Homo sapiens: one gene and its partners. The protein of the gene in region 1 purifies or fractionates together with the protein of each later gene. This does not show direct contact. Each region holds a gene or a part of one and is shown on either strand. Other genes may lie near its edges. The genes, in order: PAX8, NFIB and MKRN2.

Region 1 (3,655 bases):
GGGGACTACAAACGCCAGAACCCTACCATGTTTGCCTGGGAGATCCGAGACCGGCTCCTGGCTGAGGGCGTCTGTGACAATGACACTGTGCCCAGTGTCAGCTCCATTAATAGGTAAGAGAGAAAGCAGCCTCTGGTGTCAGGCTGGGGCCCCTGGGCTTTGGGGAAATCAGGAAAGAGACAAGAAAGGCCTGGCTTGGGTGGAGCAGAGGCCGGGAAGGGGCCTGATGCTGAACAATCAGGCAGGGAGCACACCTGGCTCCAGGCAGATATCATACCTCCCTGCCTCCTCCCTTGCCCCATGCTATGGGGCACCCTCCCCCTGGCCCCCAGCCATAGTGTGCTATCTACAGTTTCCTTCCTCAAACACCACATCTGCTTTCATTCAATAAAAGAATCTTCATGAATTGATCCTTTTCTAAGCCATCAGACCCCTAACCCAGCCCACATTCAAGCATTCATTCGTTTAGTCCCTCAATGATTCACTCACTGCCTCAATCAATCATTTACTTACTCACTCGCTTGTTCATTAATTCATTCACACATAATTCACTCATTCATTTTGTGCTAGGCCCTGGGACACACAAAGCCCATCTTTGCGGAGCTTACAGTCTAATGAGAACACAGATATTAATCAACTACCTACAAAAAATATTGTAAAAATGCAGCTGTAAGTCCTGCTAAGAAAAGGAACATGAAGATATGCAAGGTAGCACAGGATTATTTGGTTTATGAAGTTCATGAAAGTCTTCCCTTGAGTAAAAAACAATAAGAGAACTAGGTGAAAAGAGCTCAGACAGTTATGCAAAGGCCCTGTGGCTAATAGGATCAAAAGAAAACCAGTAGATAGGCCAGGTGCAGTGGCTCATGCCTGTAATCCCAGCACTTTGGGAGGCCAAGGCAGGTGGATCACCTGAGATCAGGCGTTCGAGACCAACCTGGCCAACATGGTGAAACCCCATCTCTTCTAAAAATGCAAAAATTAACTGGGTGTGGTGGCGAGTGCCTGTAATCCTAGCTACTTGGGAGACTGAAGCAGGAAAACCACTTGAACATGGGAGGCAGAGGTTGCAGTGAGCTGAGATCACGCCACTGGACTCCAGCCTGGGCGACAAGAGCAAGACTCTATCTCAAAAAAAAAAAGAAAGAAAGAAAAGAAAACCAGTAGATAAAGAGCAGGGGAGCACAAGGTAGGCTGAAGTTGAAGATGTCAGCAGAGGTGACCTTTCAGAGGCTGGGGGCTGTGTTATATCTTCTTGCCTTTGGTCATAAAGCAATGGGAAACCCTTGGCAGATTTTAAGCCAACTTGCATTTCAGAAAGTCCACTCTGGCTGCAGTAGGGAGAATCACTTAGAAAGGGCCAAGAGGGGATGGGCGTGGGCCACTGAGTGACCCTGGAACACTGGTGATGACATGCACTAAGGTGCTGATGGAGAGACGCAGAGAGGGGTCAACGTTGGCAAGGTTCACAAGGTCAAAACACAGAACTTGATGATGGGTTTGATAGGAAAGAGAGGGAAGCAGAGGTTAAGCCCCATCTCTGTTTTGGCCTTGAGTGACTGATGGTACCAATCATGAAATGCGGACAACTGAGGAGGACTAGGCATGCGGAGTAGGGTCACAGACTTGACTGTGGACAGTTGAGTTTCAAGTGCCTTGGAGATACCCAAAAGGGGTGTCAAAAAGGCGACTGGGTCTGGGGCAGCCATGAGTTCTCTTTCCTCCTCTTCTCTCTCATGGCCTTTCTTCTCTTCATCACAGAATCATCCGGACCAAAGTGCAGCAACCATTCAACCTCCCTATGGACAGCTGCGTGGCCACCAAGTCCCTGAGTCCCGGACACACGCTGAGTGAGTGCTGAGAGACCTGGATACACACACATGCTCGTGTACACCTCCCCTTCAGCATACCCACATATACACAGAGGCACACACAGACACACCCACACAGACATAGCTGTGCACAGTACCATTCACAAACCCATGTGTAGACTGAGTTGTGCCACTGCGACGAAGTCTGGCCTGTTCCCAGGGCAGATTCACTGAACTATGGAGAGGTGCAAACACTTGAGACAGCTCTAACTCCAAGAATCCCTCCCACCAGGAGGCCCCCTGGAGGAAGGACCTGAGCCCCTCCAGGGCTCAGTCCATGGTTCGGCTTGCTGCCTCCTGCACAGTGTCAGCAGGGACTGTGAGGGGTGTCACTCTCACTCCCTGACCCTCTCCCTCTTCCCACCACCGCAGTCCCCCCAGAGTCACCCCAGGGCTGTAAGGGGTGTCCCACCCCTTGCTCCTCTCCCTCTCCCCCAGCCCCTGCAGTCCCCAGCTCAACTGTAACTACCCCAGAGTCACCCAGGGCTGTGAGGGGTGTCACTCCCACCCCTGACCCTCTCCCTCTCCCCCACTGCAGTCCCCAGCTCAGCTGTAACTCCCCCGGAGTCACCCCAGTCGGATTCCCTGGGCTCCACCTACTCCATCAATGGGCTCCTGGGCATCGCTCAGCCTGGCAGCGACAAGAGGAAAATGGATGACAGTGAGTGCTGGGACAGGAGGGCAGCGGGCGGTGCACGAGAGCAGTTTGCTCAGGCTTTGATGGGGACAGAAACCCTTCCACTTATGATATGGGACTTTGTAGGGGCTCTGCATGTGACTGTCACATGTCCTGTCCCTCAGTTGGCCAAGGCTCCTGGGCCCACGTGGCTGGCCCTTTTTCTCCCTCCACAGTGAGTCAGCTTGGAGTCAGTCCTCTACTTTGGCCTAGAGCATGAATAGATAGGTCCCCTAAAAGCTTTCTTCCTTCCCGGGGGGTACCAGGTGATCAGGATAGCTGCCGACTAAGCATTGACTCACAGAGCAGCAGCAGCGGACCCCGAAAGCACCTTCGCACGGATGCCTTCAGCCAGCACCACCTCGAGCCGCTCGAGTGCCCATTTGAGCGGCAGCACTACCCAGAGGCCTATGCCTCCCCCAGCCACACCAAAGGCGAGCAGGTGAGAAGCTGGGCCCTGGGAGGTGAACAGGGTGGGCAAGGGCCAGAGAAGGTCTATTCTCCAAATGAGCCTGTGCTCCATCAAAGCAGCTGGAAGTTGCATCAATGGGCTCAGGGCACCTGCCTTATGCAACTCCAAGCCTGACACATGCTTTATTTTACCAGATGCCCTGGCATCTTCCTCCCTTTCTAACCCTCCTGGCTTCCTTCACCCAAAACCTTTGAGCCTGGGCCTTTCAGGGATGGCAGCACAACCTGATGATGCTATCCCTTGCCATCAGCGTCTTTCCCAGATTGCAACATCACGTTCCACAACTCTGAAGCAGTAGCACAAAGCCTTCACATAATGACCTCAGCCACTATTTCCTAGCCCCACCTTTGGCCACTCATCCTGCACACCCCATGCTCTTGCATTACTCATGGCCCCGAGCTCACCACCCTCGCTCACACCTCTCTGCCCTTGCACACTGTGTGCCCTCCACACAGAATGCCTTTCCTCCCACTTCTCTGCATGGAAAAATACCACTAGCCTTCATGACTCAGCCAAACATCACCCTCTCCGTCAGTCCTCCCCTGCCCCTCCGACATGAATCATCTCTCCTGCCTCTTGCCCTTCTGCATGTCCCACATGCTGCTCTCAGTAGCTTCTCACAGTGTCACTTAATAA
Region 2 (3,655 bases), on another chromosome or scaffold:
ATAAACTTCAGCACAACACTATGTGTGTATCACAAATTCTGACTTCTTGAGGGTTTACAGTATGCTAGTGCTTTCAGTCCTCTAGGGTTTTACAATCATAAGACCCACTGATGTGTATGTTGACTTTAGCTAATGAAGCCATTCAGCATTAGGATAGTGATCTCTCTTTTGAATGATATTATCTCCATCTTAAAAGTTGATTTAGGATCAGCTTTTGGAGTGAGGAGAACAATAAGGGAGATTAAAGGTTGGCCTCTAACCCTTAGAATCTGAGGTTCTTTGGTGCTTCATTTCTAAGAGGATATCGGCATCCTCTTAAACATGATTTGCAGCTTTCAGCCTTCTTGTAGCTCCCTGGGAGAGGCGCTAACACTGATCTTTGCGTCTGATGTAAGTTCTTCCAGAGGCTCTTAAGCAGGAATATCTGACTGAGACTTGCTGTTCCCACACACTCTGTCATTAAATAATTTCCATGTGTGTTGTTTTAGTACTTTGGCCGTGTTTGTTAATCTACTTTCCTTTCTGTATCTCCCATTTAGTGTCAGAATGCATACTAAATTTTTACAGTGCTCATGCATAAATCCGTAGACAAATTATTTTATTGCTATCTTTACAAAATTAAAACATAATATGTGTACATATTTATGGAATCCATGTGATCTCTGGATCCATGCATACAGTGTATAATGATTAAATCAGGCTATTTAGGATATCTGTCATCTCAAACATTTATCATTTCTTCATGTTGGGAATGTTTCAAATCTTCTTTTTTTGCTATTTTAAAATATGTAATATATTGTTGTTAACTGTAGCCACCCTGCTGTGCTATCAAATACTGGAAATTATTCTTTCTGTCTATTATAACTGTATGTTTTTACCCATTAACCAATCTCTCTTCATCTCCTCACCTCCCCACCCTCCCCCACCTCTGACAACCCCTTCGATGAGATCAACTTTTTAAGCTCCCATGTATGAGTGAGAACATGCTATATTTGTCGTTTTTATTGCTGTCTTGACACTGCGGAATAATCTTTCTGGAACAAAATTTAGAAAAAAACAATTTCTGAAGATTTTAAAATTATCATTTACTACAAATTACATCTAGTTTATTTATGGGTAAGCAAATTATGTTAACTATGGAGCCATATGTATTCAATAGAAACTATAAATCTTTGCCTAAATATTGCATGAGCTTAATAAATTGAAAATAGTTTATGTAAGGTGGAACCTCTAAGTTTCCTGTTAATAACTCAGGTCTATGAATTGTATCCATTACTGTGATAGGAAGCCAGACAGATTGTTTACTTCACTTGAGCCCCTGAAATACTCCTTCTAGCATGTACCCCACTTCCAGTGTCATATAGAACATGGTTCTAATAATAAATTATAAAACATGCGGTTACTGTGGGATTTCTTACCTCACATTTTTTTAACCTTTGGTGTGCCTCAAGCCACAACAGACATAGCTACATTTTAGCTGTCCAAATAATTCAAGCCATCAGGCACTTAGTTACTCATTGGATACAAGTATTTTCTGTGTAAAGGATGTTACAGTGTATTATATAACATGAACAATCTATCAGAAGGCTGATAGATAATCCAGAAGTTTGGAGCTGTTACTAGTCATGTATATACTGATGTATTTAATTTTTAGTCCAGAAAGGGAGATGTTCATTGTGTATTCCGTGGTTACTTCTCTGTGATAAAGCTTGTACCTCCTAATCATACTTTCTTAAAAATATTTTAAGTTAATCTTAGCCTGCCTAATATTAAAATACAATTCAAAGGGTAGTGAACACATTTAGAATATTCATTAAAAATGAGGGGTAAGAAAACTTCCATAAAAATCTGCAATCCCTTTGGAATTTTATACTCAACTTGAGGCAGATGGGAGAGAGGAGGAGTTTAAGTAGACCACGTATGCTTAGAGTGCATCTCAGGGGCTCTAGAATTTTGTTGCAAAGCCCCAGAGTACAATTTCGTGTGAGCTTTTGAAGGGCTGATTAAGACAGGTAAAGAAATGGAAACTATTCTTAAGGAGTTCTTTGACACCAACCTGCCTGGTCTCCACTTTGCACATTATCTCTACCTATGATTTTGCTTCTGCAGCAGTCCCTGTTTAGAATGACCTCCCTCTAATCTCTTACTCATTCTCCAGAGTCCAGTGCCAGCTATGGCTTTTCGCAGACTTCTTGGACAATTCAAGCTGGTATTGGATTCTTTTTCCCTTGAAATTCTACAGCAGTTTTGGATCATGTCATTAATTTGGACAGTTTCATTTTCATCTATTTTGGTATTTATGTGTTTCGCATGAATGTTTTACTTACCCAGCTTGTTGCCCAATATTTTTATTAAGGGCAATATATGAGACTATTTTGTACACATTGCAGCCAACACCTGCCAGCAGTGGACACAGTCAGTAATTTGTTGAATGAACAAATTTTCAGCGAACAGGTTCATTTATACCTCTTCCTCTGCTTTTAACACGTTTTTGAACTGTTCATCTTTGCTAACCATTCCAGTCTACCAGGGAAGAAGTTTGGAGGAGAAAGCAAAGAAGGAAGGGAACTCACAATGGTTGAGCACGTGTTATACACTAGGCATGATTCTAGGCTCTTATCACTACCTATTTCATTTCATCCTCAAAATAATCCTATGTGTCCGGTTATTATTACTCCCATTTTACAGTTAGGAAACTAGGGCACATAACTTATAATACAGAGGGAGTTTAAACTAAAAGGCTATTTATCTCTCAAGACTCTGCTGATTCTAACACAATATGCTGCCTCACAGCTTTGTTCATGATATCTAAAATTAAATTTAAAAAATGTGAACAGATGTAATTATACAAAATATCATGAGATATTTTGATAAAGACATACAATGCATAATAATCACATCAGGGTAAATGGGGTATCCATCACCTGAAGCATTTATCCTTTGTGTTACAAACCAAAAATTATTATTCTATATTATCAACATTAATATCAACATTAATATTTGAGTGGATTAGAAGTCATGATATTAATAATTATTATCATATCCTAACTGGGAGGCTGTGAATAATGATTTTTGCTTTTTTTTGTGAAACGGTTCTCTGTTTATTTATTTAACAATGATTTGGTTTTCGAGAGCCTAGGTAGTGCAAAGCAGCTTGTTTGGTGTTGCTGAGTGATAGGACTCGTATATTCTGTTTCCTCCAAGGCATTTTTAACTAGCAGAGTGACAGATGTAATGTCAACTAATATAAAGGAGTGAGTAAAGAAGGTTGAGGAATAGGATTCGGGAAATTGGTAACCAGTGATTATAATCTGATTGCCTCAAATTTCCAAGCTTGAACGTTGCTAAGGTGAGCAAGTTTTCAGGTCCTACCCAGGTTGTATGGTGGGTATTAGAGGCTTAAGGTGAAGAAAGTTCTCTCTATCTTTGACCAGAGGCATGAAAGATTCTCGATTATTACATTTGAATAGAGGTCAGAAATACGAATGTCATTCCCAGTGCTTCTTTGTCTTATTCCTCAGCGCCCATAACCCAGGGAACTGGAGTCAACTTCCCAATTGGAGAAATCCCAAGCCAACCATACTATCATGACATGAACTCGGGGGTCAATCTTCAGAGGTCTCTGTCTTCTCCACCAAGCAGGTACTGAAAGAAG
Region 3 (3,655 bases), on another chromosome or scaffold:
TGGCAGGTGGTAGGAAGAGTTTGAGCCCCAGGGTTGGGCAGTTCTGGATTCTAATCCTGGTACCACCTGTGCAACAACTGCCTCATCTGTGAAATGAGGATGGTAATGCCTAACCGGCAGGGCTGTTTAAAAATTAAATAATAGCAACAAACCATTTATTTTGTATTAGGATGAGCACTTACATGCATTTTCTCAGTTAAATGTCCCAGTAGTCTATCATAGCAGTCTATGAAGTAAGTGCAGTTATTATAATCACATTACAGATGGGGAAACTGAGGCTCAGTGACTTAAATAACTTGCTTAAGCTCACATAGCAAGCAGTCTGACTTCAGTGTCTTCACCACCACACTGTACTTCATTTCATTCCCGCCTCTAATCAGTACATTTATTGCAAGCCTGCCACAGTGCCTACCATTTGCTTCCTTCCCCCTCAGTGGATCTGCTGTCACAAGGAGTATAGCCGTAAAATTTTAGCCTGTGAAAATATGTAGGAAAATGTAAAAAAAAAAAAAAAAAAAGACACTGAGGATGCAAATTACCTGTATACTTGGAAGTGATTTGCAAAAGCGTTTTGCTAAACAGGCAACATTCAAGGGCCTGTAAGAAACCAGATTGATTGTTTTGCTTAGCACTGCTGCTGCTGGAGCTGCTGGTGGTTCTGTGGCCAGCAGTGAACCTGATATGCTCTGCAGTGTATAATAGCCATACTGTCTGAAACAGTCTTTTGGGTTTACCCAGGGTAACACCCCTTTGGAGTGTCCCCCAGAAAGAACCTACCTGCTCTGAGTCTCCAGCTATGCACTTCACCCACCTAGTCGTCTCTCCCCTCCTCCAGTTCATGTCTCAGTCGTCTCTCTTGGAAGATATGAGGGGCGGTTTGTCCATCAGAAAGGTTGAGCAGTTGGAAATTCATTACAAAGCGCAACATGAAAGAGGCTTGGAGTAAGATCAGTATAACATAGATGGAGAGGAGTGACTATAAGCACATGACAGAGATGCCCCAAAGGACAAGCAGGATGTGCTCTAGGTGGCTTTGTGCTTGTCACTGGGGAGTGGAAATGGTGACATATGCTACAAAAATAGGACTGGGCTGACTTCACCTCTTACATAACTCTCATTTCATACTTTCCTTTCTTGAAGGCAGTGATGGTGGTCTAGAAATTATTTTTGAATCTGTTTAAATCTCAGCTCAGTCACTTACAGAAGTGAAGTGGCTTTTATGAAGTCACCAGCTTATAAATGGCAAAATTAACTAGAAGCTCTGGTTGGCAGTTAAATATTTGTATTTTAGTGGAAGAGATAATTAGTGCAGTTTGGAAGGCAAGTTTTCTGGATAGGACGTATGGAAGGCGGAGGTAGAATTATAAAAGGCATCCTTGCAGGAGACCACTACCTAAAAAAGTCTTTCTTCTTGTCTGCCTTGTTAACAAATAGTATCTGGTAGAGGGCCTGTGGTAGTCTTCCACCCTGGTTCTTTCAGGAAATTTTCTGTTCTAATTGCTTCAAAAGAAACAATACAGTATTGGCTGGTGCAGTGGCTCATTCCTATAATCCCAGCACTTGGGGAGGCTGAGGTAGGAAGATCACTTGAGCCCTGGAGTTTGAGACCAGCCTGGGCAACATAGCAAGATCCTGTCTCTACCCGAGAAAAGGAAAGAAACTATACAGTATTTATTCGATATCACTTTTGTTTAACTGCTTATGTTGCCACTTTGAACCTGTCCTCTTTCAGTATTTATGAGTTTACTAATCCTGATACCTCTTTGTCATTCAGACTTGGCTCTTGGCACTGACTTTTTTTTTTAAATTATTATACCTTCAAAGATTACCATGTCTGAGGACAATTGAAATATTGCAGTCTTGAGTAGCATTTCTCAAAAATAATTCTCAAACTGCTTAGATGTATACTCTACTTTTGTGTTTGGGATCTCCAAGACCACCCCAAATCCAGAGACTGTCTAGAACTAGGACAAGTGGGTCCCAGTATACAGCTGTATTCAAGGCTGAGATTATTACCATATCTAGTAAGGGGTCACAGCCAGATCATGATGGCAGAAGACATGGGGGGTCTGGAGGAGCCTGGGTGCAGGCTTCCTACATCTGTCCCTCCCTGAGAGGGCCACACAGCAATGAAAATGCAGCAACATGTGTCCAGGGAAGCCCATTAGGGATTCAGTGCCCAAGCTGGTCACATAGGCACCCTCTGCCTAGCATGAACCAAAATTCCAGACTCCCAGAAGGCAAGCAGGTTTTCAGCATGAACTACATTGTACATCAGTTTAGACACAGCGAGACACTCTCCATCATTTAGGGAAAATTTTGTATCTGTGTAGAGAACTGTTACTAGCCAAGTTCCCAGATGCCAGGCAAGGGGCAGCCTTGGAAGCAGACCTTCCTAAGGATAGCAGTCTCACATCTGCTGTGTAACTCTCTTCTGTGCATTTATAAAATCGGTATTGTAAATAACAGGAACTCTAAGTTTCTAACAAAAAGTTTCCCAGCTTCTGTTTGTGCTTTTTCTTTTTAAAAAATAAAACTTTAACAGCCTTATGGCAAATTACTGCACAATGTCTGATCTAGTGCAGTGGTCCCCAACCAGTCTATGGCCTTTTAGGAACCAGGCCACACAGCAGGAGGTGAGTAGTGGGCAAGTGAGCAAAGCTTTATCTGTGTTTATAGCCACTCCCCATCACTCACATTACCACCTGAGCTCCACCTCCTGTCAGATCAGCAGCAGCATTAGATTCTAATAGAAGCACTAACCCTATTGTCAGCTGTGCATGTGAGGGATCTACGTTGTGTGCTTCTTATGAGAATCTAATGCCTGATGAACTGTCACTGTCTCCCATGACCCCCAGATGGGACCATCTAGTTGCAGAAAAACAAGCTCAGTGTTCCACTGATTCTACACTATGGTGAGTTGTATACTTATTTCATTATATATTATAATAATAAAGTGCACAATAAATGTAATGTGCTTGAATCATCCTGAAACCATCCCCCATCCCCCCATTCCGTGGAAAAATTGTCTTCCATAAAACTGGTCCCTGGCTCCAAAAAGATTGGGGACTGCTGATCTAATGGTAGGCCACAAGAGGGTGTTTCCTGGGGAAAGCCTAGCTGACTACCTAGCAAAGGCTGTAGGATGGCACCATTGTATAGTCACTTAAGTCATGAGGTCCAGTTCTCATTTTGTAGGCTCAGAAATTTGATTCTGTTGGTGTACATAGAGGTGGCTCATACTAGCCAAACGCATGAGAGACTGACTTATATACTAGAATATCCTTTTATAATTTCCCTGGGAAAAAAATAAACTGTCAGGTAGGTCTGGTCAGCACTTCCTCTGCTTTTGGGGAGAGAAACAGGTGGAGAAGTCAGAGGTTTCTGATTGGGGCGGATGTGCAGCATGTTCACTAGTACCCTTTCTCTGGAGACACCAGCAGTCTGGGCCTCTCGGGCCTCCCTGGCATTCCTTGCATACCATTCCCTCCTGTTGTCTAGTTCTTTTTTTTTTTTTTTTTTTTTTCCTGAGACGGAGTCTCACTCTGTCGCCAGGCTGGAGTGCAGTGGCACGATCTCGGCTCACTGCAGCCTCCGCCTCCTGAGTTCAAGCGATTCTCATGCCTCAGCTTCCCGAGTAGCTGGGATTACAGGC

What was found.
Region 2: the proteins of PAX8 (region 1) and NFIB purify together in Homo sapiens (co-immunoprecipitation; one large-scale study listed by IntAct). This does not show direct contact.
Region 3: the proteins of PAX8 (region 1) and MKRN2 purify together in Homo sapiens (affinity purification with mass spectrometry, with the first as the bait; one large-scale study listed by BioGRID). This does not show direct contact.

What each region holds. Positions count from the first base shown.
Region 1 is NC_000002.12:113,240,885-113,244,539, reverse strand, and holds part of PAX8 (paired box protein Pax-8), read left to right. Parts: coding exon 1-113; intron 114-1,761; coding exon 1,762-1,850; intron 1,851-2,409; coding exon 2,410-2,532; intron 2,533-2,813; coding exon 2,814-2,989; intron 2,990-3,655. UniProt on the Homo sapiens protein: Transcription factor for the thyroid-specific expression of the genes exclusively expressed in the thyroid cell type, maintaining the functional differentiation of such cells.
Region 2 is NC_000009.12:14,150,132-14,153,786, reverse strand, and holds part of NFIB (nuclear factor 1 B-type), read left to right. Parts: intron 1-3,521; coding exon 3,522-3,642; intron 3,643-3,655.
Region 3 is NC_000003.12:12,559,980-12,563,634, forward strand, and holds part of MKRN2 (E3 ubiquitin-protein ligase makorin-2), read left to right. Parts: intron 1-777; exon of another isoform or gene 778-1,020; intron 1,021-3,655. UniProt on the Homo sapiens protein: E3 ubiquitin ligase catalyzing the covalent attachment of ubiquitin moieties onto substrate proteins.